Linked DNA regions of Homo sapiens: region 1 is linked to region 2. The links come from fine-mapping of genetic effects on gene expression. Tissue or cell type: testis. Region 2 holds a variant in brackets; the other region holds the start of a gene. All regions are shown on one strand. Distances are between the middles of the regions.

What was found. PIP is the estimated chance that this variant, and not a neighbour inherited with it, causes the effect.
Region 1: it holds the start of HIVEP3, and the variant in region 2 is fine-mapped to the expression of HIVEP3 in testis (GTEx, PIP 0.99).

The regions. Positions count from the first base shown.
Region 1 is chr1:41,914,008-41,922,110 of GRCh38, forward strand. It overlaps HIVEP3 (HIVEP zinc finger 3), which reads right to left and starts at 4,915. Exons shown (of 9, transcript NM_024503.5): 1 at 4,406-4,915. RefSeq lists silencers at 3,851-4,145, 4,197-4,246.
Region 2 is chr1:41,445,199-41,453,301 of GRCh38, forward strand. The region is part of intron 2 of LOC105378678 (a long non-coding RNA gene); the gene reads left to right. Among named protein-coding and RNA genes, the nearest start is that of EDN2, 35 kb to the right of the region's middle. RefSeq lists an enhancer at 5,876-6,435. The variant C/T (reference allele first, on the strand shown) is at 5,013.

The DNA.
Region 1 (8,103 bases), 470 kb after region 2:
AGGCATTTTCAGATCACCCCTACTTCATATTTAGATATAAAGCTTCCCCCTTTATCCACAAGAATTCCAGCTGCACCTGGCATTTCAAAAACACTTAGTAATGAGGAGGGGAGACCCATCAGTCATGTACTCACCACTTCCATTGTTGTCCTGCCTCCCAAGCACATATTTCCAACTGTGAAACCTCCCAACAGGGCAGTCCTCTGGATAGTGTGGTTCAGTCACTTCCCACCACCATGCCTCACCTCCTCTGCCTTCCAAGCCCTCTGGGACTTCAGGGAATACCTTTTCTCCATCATATTACAATTAGATACAGGGAACCTTTGGAGAGTTCTGAGTATTTGTGATTATATTCAATAACCTGTTACTGACAGTTTCTTTTAGTTAAAGAATTTTTTCAAGTAAGTTACCAAAACAATGAATGTATGTACATCTAGAAACTGAGAAATACTCTTCCATGACTTTTAGTTAGGTCCTCACGTTTTCCACATATGTATTGAATTTTTAAAATACTATTTTAAAAGGGTCTACATTTATTTTCCTCTACTTTTGTTTTTCCTCTTGCCTTTGTTTTGGAGCAAATTTTAACTGAACACATTGTCAGAGGGTCAGGCCAAGTTTGGCACTGCTCGTGTATCTCAGCCACCTTCCAGTTTTCAGCACGATGTCTGAACTGAAAAAACACCATTGCTTACCATAAGGGTGTGGCCATGACAGCTTGAACAACATCCGGGTAGTGGTAAGTCTACATTTGCTACACAGATGTAAGAAACAGATAGCAGTAGGGTCTACCTCTCCTGCTCCATCTTTTCCATCACCAGGTCTCTTCCAACTCCAGAATTAAAGTCATCAAGTTGGAACAACTCTAAGTGTGTTTCCTGATCATAACAAGACAGGTTGAGGTTCATGAATATTTTCTTTAGTATTAAATGTTAGAACATAACCACTAATAATAACAGTAGCATAGTAGTTCCCTGATAAATTTTGACAAAAGATCATAAAGTTCTCAATTTCAACAGCAGGGCTTTATAGTTGTAATATAATTTTGACCAGTAAGCCACCGGCTATCCAGAAACCTCACAGGTGCCATTATCATGGATAGTTGCAGTTTTTTCTCTAAGAATCATGCAAAAAAAAAAAATCTTTTGGGGATACTTCAGAACTCTGTCTTTTTAAATTGGATGAACAAAATATAATTTTAACTTCTATGGATACATGTGGGTCATTGTGAGCATCAGTTACTATGTTATAAAACAGAGTACCAAAGATCCATCAAAATACATAAAATTTCACTGAATTGCTTACATTAAATGCTCATATCAGCTTTAGAATTCCATGCCTTGAATTCTTGTGCCTTTTAAATTTTTTTTTAGTTTTTCTGTTTTTTACTCTTACTTCTTACTGATACTTGATAAAAGAGCTTTAATAATCCTTGCACAGTACAGTATCAGTTGCTTCCAATTTGCTAGGTGCATTTGACAAACTAATAACCAAGCCTCTTAAAACTTGAAGTAAATGCAGAGGCCTGAAAGAGGGTATAAAATTTCCTCCAATGATCAAAATTCATAAACTGTAGCTCATGGACTTATGACCTTTCTCTTGATTTGCCATCTAGGTCCCAACTGGATAAGTGAAATTATGTAAATGTGAGTTCCAGATTGTTGTGGTATTATCCTAATACCTATCAACTACATAGCATGTTACTAAACGTATCTCATTTTTCTTCTCAAGATAGTTCAGTGGTCTTGGTAAGGTTATGATGGTTACACCTACTTTACAGATAAGGAAGAAAATTGGTCACGGGCTTTGGCCAAGTCTGACCCAGAATGCTAGTGCTGCCTGTTGATACAGCCAGTGTTTTCCAGCCCTGCCCGCCTAGTGCATCTGCAGATTTGTAAATACACTTTGACTCCACAGGAAACAGGATGGAGAACAGCATGTCAGGGACTCCTTGATGGGCAGGATGGAGGGCAAAAAAGAGCCTTAAAGACATTAGGGAATTCACAGAGTAGGGAGTGAGAGACAAGTTAAATGCTATCCAGTTGTCACACAGCTTTCTTAATGTTATCTTTCATCAAATCATGTCCTAGAACCTGCCAGGACTTCAGACTAAATGCATCTTCTTCTTGCCTGTACCTTTCACACACTAAATGTCTCAACAGCTCACTTGGCAAGGACCCAAAGGCAGCACACACTTCTCCACTCCAAGGAGGGTGGCTGCCACTAAACACAATGGGCGGAGACAGCTCAACAATAGTGCCAGTTGAGCACATCTTGATCCACTGCCACAGAGTTCACAGTAGTAGTTGGCCCTCAAAGCAAACCCACTGGGGTGTTGAGGGCAAAAAAACAATCTTAGCCTTAAGGGGCCAGACTTTGCCATCAAATTAACAAATCTGCCCAACAGCCCCAGGCTGAGGCGCTCAGGGGTGTGACAGGAGGGCCCCTGTTAACAATTCTGTATCCTGTGGGTGCCTTAACTAGATGGAGTGGAGAGGAAGCAGAGAGCTAAGTGTCACACCACCCTCTCCTCCTGCCTGCAGGTGTCTTAGTTGGACAGCTGTCCACCTTCCTTGCAAAAAACTCCCACAATCTTTAAATGCAACTATGTAAAGGGCCTCCAGCCTCTGCAAGCCATCACAACTTTAAAGAGCATATGTCAAACAGCTCAGACGGCATCTGAGGTCTATTCTTCAGCCCCACAGTATAGCCCAACCCCAGAGCACAAGTGACACCCTAGTGGACAGGAACTCCTCCCTACACTGGCTGCTCAGCAGGACCATGAAGAACAGCTGGGACCTGGCCTATTACCTTGGCTTCAGGATTCATTTTCTGCCTGGAATTGGGAAACTGGAGGCCCTGCAGGGGTCCTTCTCCTGGGTCCAACTGTCTCCAGGGTGCAAGAGGGGTGAAATTACCAAATGAAAGTTCAGATAAGCAATTACTGGCTGAAAGAGACACAGGAGGGTCTTCAGATCAACACTGACCCAGAGCTAATACCACACTGTCCTCAGAGGGACACACGATCACTGACCTGTATTCTTCACATTTAAGTTGCTAGAATTATTCCTCCTTGCCCCCACTCTCTCCCTGCCCCCAGCATACACATAATTACATAAAGACGTCTTAAACAACTGTAGCACCCAACTTCTTCAGTCTGGGGGAGAGCCAGGAGATGGTGGGGAGCTGTTTGGGCACACGTCTGATCATTACATAATCACACAAACATGGGCTGGAGAACACTGCCATGCAGATCAGTTCAGCAAACACCTCATTCTCCCTCTTTCCTCTTCCCTCCCCCCGTAACACCCAAAATGCACACCAGAGTTAACAAAACCGAAGCACTCCAGGTAGCCAGTGGGCACCTGGCTGCTGTGGTTACAATGCCAAGGGCTACCAGAAACGTCAGCGTATACCAGAAAGAGGGCCAGGGTGCTGCTCACCCAGCGACCAGATCTGCAGACCCTCTTCCTGCAACCACTGCCCCCGAAGTTCAAGGAAGGGCCTAGCCACAGAAATATTCCTGACCTGCAACAGAAACCAAACCAGCTACGTTAAAGGAAACCAATGCCGAGCCTCCAAGTTCCTCTGCACCACTGCCACACTCAGGAGTCCTCAGCAGCCTGGACAATATCATTAGGGACCATTCGGCACCATCAGTGTTTCCATTTAAAAGATAGTAAAATGTGGGGCATAACTTGGAGGGGACACTCTCTCTGCTAGCAGGGAGGCAAGAATCCCCTATAGAATAGGAGTTTGGTTTGGGTTTGGTTGGGTCAGGTTGGGGGTTGGGAAATGATTTTGCTTTAGGAATATTTTCAGGGGGCTAGGATTAAGGGGGAAAAAGAAAGCTATCCCCTCTGTCTCAGCAGCCAGCATCATACGAATCTCACTCTCAACCAAGCAGGCTACTGCAGTCCGCCTAAACAATCCGGAGCAGCAGCCAAGGCAGCACAAGAAAACGCCGGTGCCACGGAACGCGATGCCTAAGCCCCCCAGCCGAGGCTCCTATGGAGCCGGCCGCCAGTGCGCGGGTGCAGAGCCCAGCAGAGCCTGCTGCAAGCAGCGCTGGAGCGCACGGCGCGCATAGGGTTACAGCCCCGCCGCCGCCGCCGCCGCCGCCGCCTGTGATTGACGCGCGGGGGTCACTTGAGGCTCGCGCCGCTCCCCAGCACCAGGCCGAGCAGCGCGCTCAGCCCACCGGGGGCACTGGCCGCCACGCGCAGCCCACCCGGCCGGCCCCTGCGTCTCGGCAGCCGGACACCTTGCCTAAGAAAGGCATACACAAAATGGAATCGCAGCTCGCTATTCTGCTTCGCGGTGCGGCCTCAGGCAAAAACACAATCACAAGGTAAAATACAGCGCAAGGAATCCATCCGCCGAATAAAAACCCAGAGTCCCCTACCTTCGGCCTTGGGATGGCAAACTGGTCCTGTGTTCTCTGACCCACGGATCCAGCCCCTTCTTCATGAATTATTCCGGCCAGGCAGGATTTTGTGCATTTTTTTCATGAACACCTGTTTCAAGTAAGGGGTAAAGACCTTATTGAAAGAATTGTCCTTAAAAAATAACCTGTGCATACGTATGTCCATCCAGGCATGCATGCGTGTTTGTATACACACATATGCACACGGAATAGCCATGTACATTGAAGCACCAAACTAGGCAGCTGGATAATGGGAGAGTCGGCTGGTTGTGAGCATGCTCGCGCCGGGAACAGATCCACCCTCTGTTATTCCTCTGAATAAATATAAATCACGATCAGAAACCCAAACAGAAGCATCCCTCTTGAATTCGTGCTGCTGAAAAACACGGAATAAATTCAGCCTGCAGACACAGAATCTAATCAGCAGCTGTTTTCTGAATCCAGAGCCAACCCATGCCTCGCTTGTCTTTTCCACTAGGAGTCCAGACCTTTTTTGAAAGGGGGTTTAACCTTTTAAAGACACAGTACACCAATTATCACTTCGGAATAGCTGTCACTCCCAGCGCAGGAAGCCAGTCCCATGCCTAAAGGCACAGTAGGCTTGCACACAGTGATAAGGATTTCATTTATTGGTGCTTTTTAAAAAACAACATATATGTATAATATATGTGCATATATATGCACATATATATGCACACATATTATATATATATACGTGGAGAGAAAAAATGCAAATGCAAGTCATAAATATTTATTGCACTGATGAGCTTCTCAGTACTAATTGGCACGTTATGTAAACACTATGATCCTTCACTTCTGAACACCCATGTTCACGGGTCAGACGAGACAGGGCACTCTTGTCAGCAAGCGTGTCACACCTCACCAGCCTCTGGCTGCAGATCAGGGGCCGGGGAGCCTCAACAGTGCCTGAAGGGAGTGGGGTCTCTGCACCTGAGAGCTCAACACGGGCACTCCTTGCCCTGCCCTGCCTTGCTCTGCAGTCTCAGGGTCCATGTCCACAAATCAAAGAATAGTTCTGGCACTATTTCTAAAGTCGAACATAATCCAGAGCCACATCGCATTCCAAGACATACTTTCTTTCAACCAGAATCAGGAATCAGAACTACCACCTGAACCTTAGTTAGAGTCTTTACGATTCAGACTTAGGCCCTTCTTCAAGATTTTGTTATTGAGTTCTGTTGTTTTGTTTTTCACTTTTCTTTTAAGGGTCAGCATGGAGGTATGGAGGTAGAAAAACAGGGTAGGGGGAGAGACAACCTCCAGCCTAAATTTTTTTGAAAAAAATTATTCTTCGAGTACTTCAGCCACCCAGATGGTGTTTACTGCAGTTTTGTTCTGGCTTTTAAAGAGGTAGCGCTGAGAAGAAACAAGAGTCCTAACCTTGCTCACGTGTGTTAAGAAGGCAAATGTCTTTGACAGTTTCTTTTTCACCCCAGCCCCAGAGCTCCAGCATGGCGCTGTCTGCTCCTCCGCTGGTTCCCGCCTAAGAGCAGCGGCAGTGGCTCACCTCGGGAGCTACAGGGGCGCTCCTACAGCCGCTCCAGCATCACAGCCCATTCCCTCCCTTGCCTAGTCCTGCCAGGCAAACCGTGAAAACAAGTGCACTGTCACCCTCCCACCTCATCACAGGCGCTCCTGTGTGGACCCCTCCCAGCGACACACACACACTCTCTTCCTTCCCCTCTTCCAGGGCCCTTTGGCAGAAAATTATCATATTTCATGTGTCATCGCCCAAGCAAGCTGGGTCCATCACTGATTGGCTGGGCCCTGGCAGCCGGAAATGTCACCAGCCACACAGCGTGGAGCTGGCTCTCCCGCGGCCACCACAGACCTGAGCCCAGGAGGCTCTGTGACAAGGCACAGACCTACCACAGAGAGCCTGTCACTCTCTCCCTGGTCCAGCCCCTGCCCCCTGCTTCTCCATCTACCCAGCCCCCCGGGGAATAGGGGCTGCGAGGGGATGGTGAAGGAGTCTCAGTGACATTCCTATTTTCCCAGCATGTTTGAGAAGAAACTAAAGATGTCTCCAATCAGGTTTATAAATTTGGAGAACTTGTTTTTGACAAAAACATTCTGTCTTCACACTAAAAAAAAATCAGTAAGACTGGGTGAAAACAAGATGGTTTTTTTTTTTTTGTTTTGTTTTTTACCCCAGGAGAGTTTACTAGATGCTGCTGTTTATTTCCCATCTAACATCTCAGGCACCAAGGTATAATCATGTCACAGGGCTGTCCGATAATTCAGAAGGTGATTCGAGTCCATCCTCTTACCTTTAAAGAGAACAGCTCCAGAAAATGAGGCTTTGTAACTTGGCTTTGCAATGTATCATGATGCCACACAACTTTTTAAGGGTTAAATGATCTTTGTAGTGACCAACATGAATCACTTCAGCTGTAATTTAATCTTAGTCCCTCCTGCTGTATCTTCAGCAGGCTTAGTGTGACTCACCATTTAAGTCTCACCTTATTCTGTTCTCCTGAGTAAACTAAACTCTATCTCTCTGTCCTTTTCAGTAAAAGTTTTTCTCAACCCTTTAATTATGCTGCTTTAAAGAAAAAGCCTCCCAGAGTTACATGAGTCTGGAAGGTCATTTGGTCCATCTATCCATATGATGTGTCAGAACTCTCCACTATTTCCATACGGGGGCTTTTGGTTTGGGGAATGGTAAATTCACTGGCAATGCTGGGAACCAGGGAAAGATGCCATCAATAAAGCAGACATTTTGAATAATATGGGAAGATACAAAGTAGATGGGACATGGGAGGAAAAACTAATTAGTACTGATAAACTCATGATTCTGCAAAGACCCTGATATGGTTTGGCTGTGTCCCCACCCAAATCTCATCTTGAATTGTAGTTCCCATAATCCCCACATGTCATGGGAAGGACCTGGTGGGAGGTAATTGAATCATGGAGGCAGGTTTTTCTCATGCTGTTCTTGTGATAGTGAATAAGTCTCATGAGATCTGATGGTTTTATAAAGGGTAGTTCCCTTGCACACGCTCTCTTGCCTGCCACCATGTAAGATGTGCCTCTGCTCCTCCTTCACCTCTGCCATGATTGTGTGGCTTCTCCAGCCATGTGGAACTGTGAGTCCATTAAACCTCTTTTTCTTTATAAATTGCCTGGTCTCAGGTATGTCTTTATTAGCAGTGTGAGAACCGACTAATACAGACCCCTAAGAAGTAACTGTACAGGTTTCCAGAAAACAGTCTTGGAAAATCCCAAACTCAGAGAATCAGGATTGGAGGAGAATCATAGGCAGCAGTTTAAAGGCAAATTAAGGGACATCAGGAACATGGTCAGTTTCTCCACACAGAATGGCTGGACACAGAAATAGGTCCACAGCTTCTTTGGAAAGTGAGAGGTTTGTTCCAAATATAATAGAAGCCAAAGGTTGAATAGGGGCAGGATATCAGCTCCTTTTGAAATGCCACTGCTCTTCCCCAAAAAGTGCGCACACACACACACCACACACACACACACCACATGCACACAAAAGAGATTTAAAAAATCAGATAAAATATAAGATATAACAGAGAGATCCAGAATATCCAATCAATATTAGCCTAATAGGAGTTCCAGATGGAGGCATCATTAATGAAGAAGAAATCAATAATCAAGGAAATAACAGAAGAACATTTCCTTAACCTGAA
Region 2 (8,103 bases):
ATTTGTGGCAGGAAAAGAGTGGCTACTTAAGGAATGATGGGTGCTTTTCTGGATGGAGTTTGGGTTCCTCTTCAGCACTGAAAACCCATCTTAGGCCCCTTGCTTAAAGATTGCTTGACAACTACTTTCTTGATTCGATGTAACTCCCTCCCTGGCGGGAGGATAAAACAGGCTCTTTAATGCTTCCCCAGGCAAGGCAGAGGTTGCAGTGAACAGAGATCGTACCACCACACTCCAGCCTGGGCAACAGAGCAAGACTCTGTCTCAAACAAACAAACAAACAAACAAAAACAAACAAACAAACCATGCTTCCTCAAGCTTCAGTTAAAAGGCCTTTCCCCCCTACTCCCCAACCATCGTGCTCACCCTGACCCCTCTAGATGGCACCACCAGGTCTGCCTGAGCATCTGGGAGAGGGAAAGTCTGTGGGCAAGATGTATCTGGAGTGGGTAAAAGGGAAACAGCAGAGCAGGCACTCCATCTGGCAGACAGGTGGGCAGATGGAGCCCCTGGGCCAGGCTGAGCAGAGGCCAGAGAGCTGAGCCCAGCTAGAGAAGGTGAGCAGGCAGTGCCCTGCCTACCTGGCTCCAAAGTCCTCATCCCTGCAAGATCTGAGTTGTGTTTGCAGCACTTCCCTGGATGGACTGCAAGTGGAGGCTGTGATCTGATCTGCCCTGTCATGGCATCACTGATGGGCAGTGCCACCCTGAGCTGGAGGGGGCTCATCCTGAACAAATGGCCTCCTGACAACAGGCCCTATGTTGGCATGGATGCCTCTGCCCTTCCCCCTTCAAGATCCCCAAATTTGAGCTTTTCCAACCAAGGCGGGTGACCTCTGAGTCCGGGGGTGAAGGAGCAGACACCTCTTGGTTCTCTGAAAAATGTCATTGGTGACAAGGGGTAGAGGGAAAGCACCAATTTGCTCTATGGCTTATCCAGATCCGGTTGCCTTCACAGGCCACAGTGCCCTCTCTCCAAGAGGACTGTTGAAGTTCCTTCTGGCTCTGACATTCAGTGGCAAAATAACAATGACCAACCTTTGGAGCACTCATCTAATTAAATCCTCCTGAGCTAGTACAAATATTATCCCCAATTTATTGACAAGGAAACTGCAGCTTAGAAAGGATAAGTAGGCCAGGTGCGGTGGCTCACACCTGTAATCACAGCACTTTGGGAGGCCGAGAGGGCGGATCACGAGGTCAGGAGATTGAGACCATCCTGGCTAACACAGTGAAACACCGTCTCTACTAAAAAATACAAAAAATTAGTCGGGCGTGGTGACGGGCACCTGTAATCCCAGCTACTGAGGAGGCTGAGGCAGGAGAATGGCATGAACCCAGGAGGCGGAGCTTGCAGTGAGCCGAGACTGCGCCACTGCACTCCAGCTTGGGTGACAGAGCAAGACTCCATCTCAAAAAAAAAAAAAAAAAGAAGGAAAAAAAGAAAGGATAAGTAAGTTGCCCAAGGTCACCCAGCTGCTTGGTGGCAAAGCCTGGATTCAAATCGGAGGTTCTCCAACTGTAGAGTCCAGCACACTTAACTCTTCTGCTATGCCATCCGTGCCCCCTTTGGACAGTGTGGAGATTAGTCAGTGCTAGTCTAGGCTGATGTTTTGCTGATGACAATGAATTCATCCTCTGTTCTGGTTTCGTGCTCTGTGGCTTTAAGAAAACTTTCTTCTCTTTCTGCTTTAGTTTCTGAAGAAACTGGCCAAGCTGGCTTCGAACCGGCAGCCAAGAGAACTCCGTGGAGTATGTCAAGCAGGATCTTGCCTAAGAACACAGATGTGCGTGTGGAGGGGAGAGCCCAGGGAGTAATTAGGGCAATATCTCGAAGGGGGAGACGTGCCTCCTCTCGGGGGAAGACCGTGAGCCCATCTGTCAACAAGCCCTCCTTGACTCCTTCTCTGGGCTGGGCACTGTGGGGGGTAGAGGGATGCAGGAGCACAGAGCTCCCTCCCAGGTCTGAATGCTCTGACATGAAGACACCCCTTCTGCTCTCCTTCCCCAGAAGCCCCAACCCCCATACCCTAGAGCTCAAATCCTGTGAGGAGAGATAAGATTTATACATGTGAAAGTGAAGGAACAAAGGGATGATTTGCTCCAAGTGTGTGGTCTATTGGCTCTTTAATAAGCATTGATTGAGCTTTTTCAGAACCAGGACAGGGCTAGGCAAGGGAGACCCAGAGATGGAAGGGGCTGAGTCTCCCCTCTTAGCACAGGCCAGATGGAGGACAGGCTTGTTAGCCAATCAGGGCCAAAGAGAGGAAAGAAGCTTAGAAGCTTCACAGTAGCACGCAATAGGTGCCCAAGCACTTGCTTAAATACTTACTGTGGATTTTTAAATTTTTAATGTTCTTAAAAATGGAGATGGGGTCTACACTATGTTGCCCTGGCTGGTGTCAAACTCCTGGGCTCAAGCGATCCTCCTGCCTTAGCCTCTCAAGTAACTGGGACCACAGGCATGAGCCTACACCCAGTTGGATTTCCTTATTTAATCCTCATAAAATTCTATGAGGTGGGGGCCATTACTGCTCCCATTTTATGCATGAGGCAGCTGAGGGTTTGTAACTTGTCTAAGACCCTGCAGCTTGTAAGAGATGGAGGCAGGATAGGAACCCAGGAAACATGGCTTTGAAGGCTAAGTCTTCGAGTGCTGGACTCTGGAGAGGGCAGACCTCAGCCCAGGGGCCAAGGACGGCAATTGGAAGAGAGAATGTTCGGGCTGGTCTCAAGGAGGAGTTTATCAAGGAGGGATGAGGGCCAGAGCCATCTGGGCAGGGAGTGTCTGGAGGCATGAAGCAAGGAGCATGTTTGGCAATGGGGCATTGCCAGAGGGGATGGGTGTTTATTGTGTGGGTAGTGTGGTGCTGAGACAGTAAGTGGGGATGGATGAGGAAGGGCCCCAAGTGCTTTGTGACTTCGTCCTGGAGATAGTGGAGGATGCTTGAAGGGATGGTGGGTGGGTGCTCTGTCGACCCAGGGGAAGATGGCTGTGTGGTCAGGAACGGAGGTGTCGAGGAGGATATGGGCTTGGGCTGGCTAGAACATCCAAGAAAGAGAGAGGAGGGGAAGTGGTGGGAGCAAAGGGGGGGAGGGGGAGGTCCCCAGTCTGGATAGGGGGAGGCATGTGGAAAGGGTTAGGGCCAAGGAGCGCTGGAAAAGTGGGTGGAGTCCAATCATGAGGCCCTTAAATTCCACACTAAGAGTCTGCTCCTGGGCCATCAGCACAGGCTGTATGGACAGGGAAGCCTGGTCAGCTGGGGCTCTGCGGTGCTATGGGCCAGGCACAGTGTGGTTGTAGAGTAAGCAAGACAGACATGGCCCCTGGCCTTCATGGAATTTGCAGTCCAGGAGCCGAGACAGACATGAATCAAGCAGCCTCAGGCACCCATGGCTGACTGCAAACAACCTGGCAGCTGATGGAAAACTCAGGGGCCCCAGGGGAGTGTGAGCTGGTAGGAAGTGCAGAAGCAACTCTAGGCTGCATCTCTTGGGGATGGGGAGAGGGGGAAGGAAAAGCATTCCAGGCAGAGGAACCAGCAAGCGCACAGCCTCAGAAGCAGCAAGGAATGGAGGCATTGAAAGAAAAGCAAAAAGGCCAGGGAGGCTGGAAGGCAGAGAGCTAGGGGGAGGGAGATGCTGAAGATTTGGGGGTTTGACTGGAGAAGAGTTGGGAGATGGTGAAGGGTTTTAAGCAGGGAAATGACCAAAAGATCTGTGTTGTAGAAAGATCCCTGGCTGCTGTAAGCAGAATGGAATGAGGGGGAAGTATGGCTTTGAGGGACCAGTTAGGCAGCTGCTGCAGACTCTCAGGAGCAGCTGGAGAGCCCCGGCTCAGGTCACAGTGAGGGAGTCAGAAGCAGGTGGGTGGCCCACACAGTGCAGGTGCTTGGAAGATGGATTCAGCAGGACTTGGTGACTGGCTGGGGAGGCGGGTGAGAAAGAAGAAGGGGTGGATGGAGGGGCTATCTACGGAGATGGGGGGGTCGGGAGGGAGGGGGTGGTCTTGAGAGAAAGAATCATGAGACAGTTCTAGCCAAGCTTGGATTGAGGTGCCTGAGAGACACCTGAGTGCAGGCAGCTGGGTGCCCAGGCCTGGGGCTCAGGAGGCGGGTGTGGGATGATCTAGGAATTATGAGCTAGAGATGGAAAGTCAGCTATGGGGGAGGCTAGGGAGAGAACATGGGAAGAGAAGAGGGCCCAGGACACAACGTCAATGACTGTTGGAAGAAGAGGCACCAAGGACACCGAGAAGCTGCTGGCGGAGCAGTGGGGGAATATCAAGTCAGAGAATCCAGAAGGCCCTTGGAGGGTGTGGTCTGCAGGTGTGAGGAGGCCGAAAGCCCAGGCAGGTTGACGACTGTAAAACGCCGGTTGGATTTAGCAAAATGGAGGTCCGGGGCCTTGAGCAGGAGCAGGTTGAGTAGAGGGTGGGGAGGGGCAGAGACAGCCTCGTGGGAGGTGAAGCCTAGGAGATGGGACTTGGAGATAACAGGTTACTGCCAGGAACTGGGGCTGAAGGAGGAGGAAAGGAATGGGACCGAGTTCAATTGAAGAGGATAGACAGGCTTGATTTGTTTGCTTGTTGGTTTTTAGGGTGGGAGGAACTGGGCATGTTTAAGAAGAGGGAGCCAGTCAGGAGAGAGAGGTTCAGTGTCTTTCCCAGAATAGACCCTTGAGGCTAAGAACAACAACAAAAAATCCAGTAGAGCCCCAGGAGGAAAGGAATTTGGCTTTTTAGCTGAGTAGTGAAAAGGCAAGCTGGCAATTGCCCTTTGGCTCTGCCAGGGAAGGTCAGAGAAAGGCCTCCCCAGTGATGGAGAGGGGAAGGAAGTGAGGGGGAGAAAAAACAGTGGAGAGATAAACAAGCCTTGGCTGGAAGGAGGAGAGAGAAGCCCCCTCTGAAGGTACCTAGGGGTATTAAAAGGGGGAAGTTAACAGTGAGAACAAATAATAAAGATTCTTATATGTAGCCAAGGTTTGCTCTTTGTGTACTCTGAGACTACCATA[C/T]GTAAAGGCTGGTGTTTGAACTTGGCTCCTAGCAGTGGCAGCTTGTTAGGGAAGAGTTCTGGCTCGGGAGGCAGGAGATCAGGCTTCTGGTCTAGCTCTGCCATTAACCGGCTCTGGAGCCTGGGCCGCAGTGTCCCATATTTCAGTTGGGCTGGAGGTGAGTGTTTCTAATACTTTCATGGGGTTTTGTGAGTTGGCAACCTCGTTACATGGCTGGTGGCTTGATGCTCCAGAAAGTGTGTTTGCTGCACGGGACTGCATGAGGTAATAATAGTGTTGATAGTGATAATAATAGCTAAAGTGTACCGAGTGGCATCTCTGTGATCTGCACTGTGCCAAGAGGTTTGACTCCTGAGGAGGGATCATACTCCCCATTTTACATCATGGAGATGCTGAATGCCAGGTTGAAGGGTCTGAATGGGAGTATAAGGAAGGTTTGGAAAGAAGGGTCGGCAAACCGATAGCAGGATCCACACAAGACGGGTGGGACAATGCTGGAGTCCAGCAAAGAAGGAAGGCAAGCAATAAACCCAGAGGCAATCTGTGGATGAGTCTGCATGGGGGAAGAGGCAGAAGGACTGGCCTGAGGGAGGCATCAGCGTCTCCAAGTCTAAGCATGGGCTGCCCACTTCCTTGGAAAGGGGCAGAAAATCTAAGCAAGGCCAGCTCTGAGCCTGTCAGAGAGTTGGGTTGGGACACGCCCGGGGGTATTTGGCTCTGGGATTTTGTTGTCTGTTTACTAACCGCTCTCCTGCCTCTGGCTGCAGCGGTGAGCTTGCGAAAGTCTTGGCCTCACTGTGTCTCTGTCTCACCGTTGCTGGAGGAGCCCAGTGGGTTACCTGGCCTCCCCTCCCTCTGCCGGGTCTCAGTTCCCTGCCACCTGCCCTGCAGGGCAGGTGGCCACTCGGACCCCAGTGGAGACTTGTCCCAGCCTCAGCCTCCCTGCAGCCCCTTCATGCCACATCTGTGTGTTCCCTGCCACCACCCTTCTGTGCTGTGCCTCAGGGAGGCCCCAGCCTCACTCCACATTTCCACTGGTTTTCTTTCCAAGCAAGTTCCCATCTATTATCCAATTTAATGCTCCTCCAACCTTGTGAGATCATCAGCTGAGCCATAAGCCCCTGAATCTGGGTCCCACAGCTGGTTGTAAAGCTGGACCAGAGGCAAGGCTCCTCCTGGTTAAGTGCCATATTGGAAAAAGGCCTGAGTGACAGGACTCTGGATTCCATTTCTGGCTCTGACATTATTCCCTGTGTGACCCTGAATAAGCTCTTGCTCTCCTGTGCGGAAAGGAATGGGGTGGACGAGGTGACCTTTACTGTCTTCCCAACTCTGAAAGTCTTGGAAAGATTGAGCCGAATCCTTTAGTCAGCAAACATGCCTTGTCCCTTCCAGTGAGGCCAGCCTGGGCTGGAGCTGGAACCACTGTAGCAGGCCTGCCTTCTGGGTAGGGGTAACCCTAGCAAAAGGCCTGGTCCACAGATAAAAGGCCTGGCCACAGTCAAAGGGGCAGCATACAAAAGGCCTCTGAAGGCCTGGCGTGGTGGCTCACACCTGTAATCCCAGCACTTTGGGAGGCTGAGGTGGGTGGATCACAAGGTCAAGAGATCAAGACCATCCTGGCCAACCTGGTGAAACCCCATCTCTACTTAAAATACAAACAATTAGCTGGGCGTGGTGGCTGGGCCTGTAGTCCCAGATACTCAGGAGGCTGAGGCAGGAGAATCGCTTGAACCTGGTGGGTGGAGGTTGCAGTCAGCCGAGATCCATGCCACTGCACTCCAGCTTGGGGACAGAGCGAGACTCCGTCTCAAAAAACAAACAAAAAACCAAAAGGCCTCTGAAAATCATCACAGAGACTGCCAAGCCCTTCTCATGGCCTCTTTCTGTCCCCCTAAATTCTCTCACACCCACCCTGTCCCCAGCCTCTCTTTCACCCCCAACCACACCATCACATAAAACCACTCTCCACCCCAAGCCTGGACGTGCTTCTGCTTACATGATGCCATTACTGTTGGCCAGAAACTCACTTAATCCTCGCTACAGCCACCCTATGCCATGAACATTATTATCCTCATTTTACAGACGAGGAACCAAGGCCTAGAGAAGCTAAGTGACTCATCCAGGTGTTCCCAGTGGGAAGTTGCAGTGCAGGATGTGGTCCCAGAGTGCAGGGTCCCAGTGCCTGAGGTCAAACCCGAACTGTCCTGCTCACCAACTGTGTGGCCTTGAGCAGAGGCCCCCTCACCCTCTCTTGAGTTTTAGCTTCCTTCCTCATAGAACAGATCTCCCCATTTCTACCTTTGGGTGGCTGTGAACAGACCCATGTCTGTCACCATCTGTGTACTCTCGCAAATCGCTCACCCTCTCTGAACTTAGAGGTTTTGTCTAGAAATGGGGAAAGCAACACCCACTTCACAGGGTTGGTGTGGGGATTATGACAGAGTATTGAGAAAGAGCTAGTGCTCAATAAACCCCAATCTCTGAAGCTGCCTAATTGTAAAGCGAATAGGGCCCTGTGGTTGGACAGACAGATTGCTTCTGATTATCCGCCATATTGTAAATATGGCTGCAGGGAACATCTTTTTGGCTTTCTTGGATTCATTCCTATGGATAAAGTCCTGGGGATTGATTGCGGCCCAGGTCAAAGGTCATGAACACTTATTCAAGTTGGCAGCTTTTTGTTATGGAGCAGGATTCCGGAGTCAGATAGTCCTGCGGGTGAATCCGCATTGGCCTATTTCCTAGTCACTAGCCTTGGGTAAGTGACTCCACCTCGCTAAGCCTCTGATTTCTTATCTGTAAACCAGGGTAATAACATTAACTGTATTAAGGGATTGTTGCCTGACATGAAGTACTCATAAACCCTACCTTTTATTACGGTCCTGACTTGCTCTGATACCCATCCTTAGTTAATCAATACGGAAGCCGAGGTCGAGTGAGGGGAGTAGTCTCCTACCAAGGTCACAGTCTGTGTGCAGCTGGTAACCCAGATCTATCTGGGGCTAGTTTCAGCATCTTCTTTGCAAACCCTGTCAGACTCAAGCCAGGGCTGGAATTGATATGGTGCAGGGACTATGGTGGCCCAAGA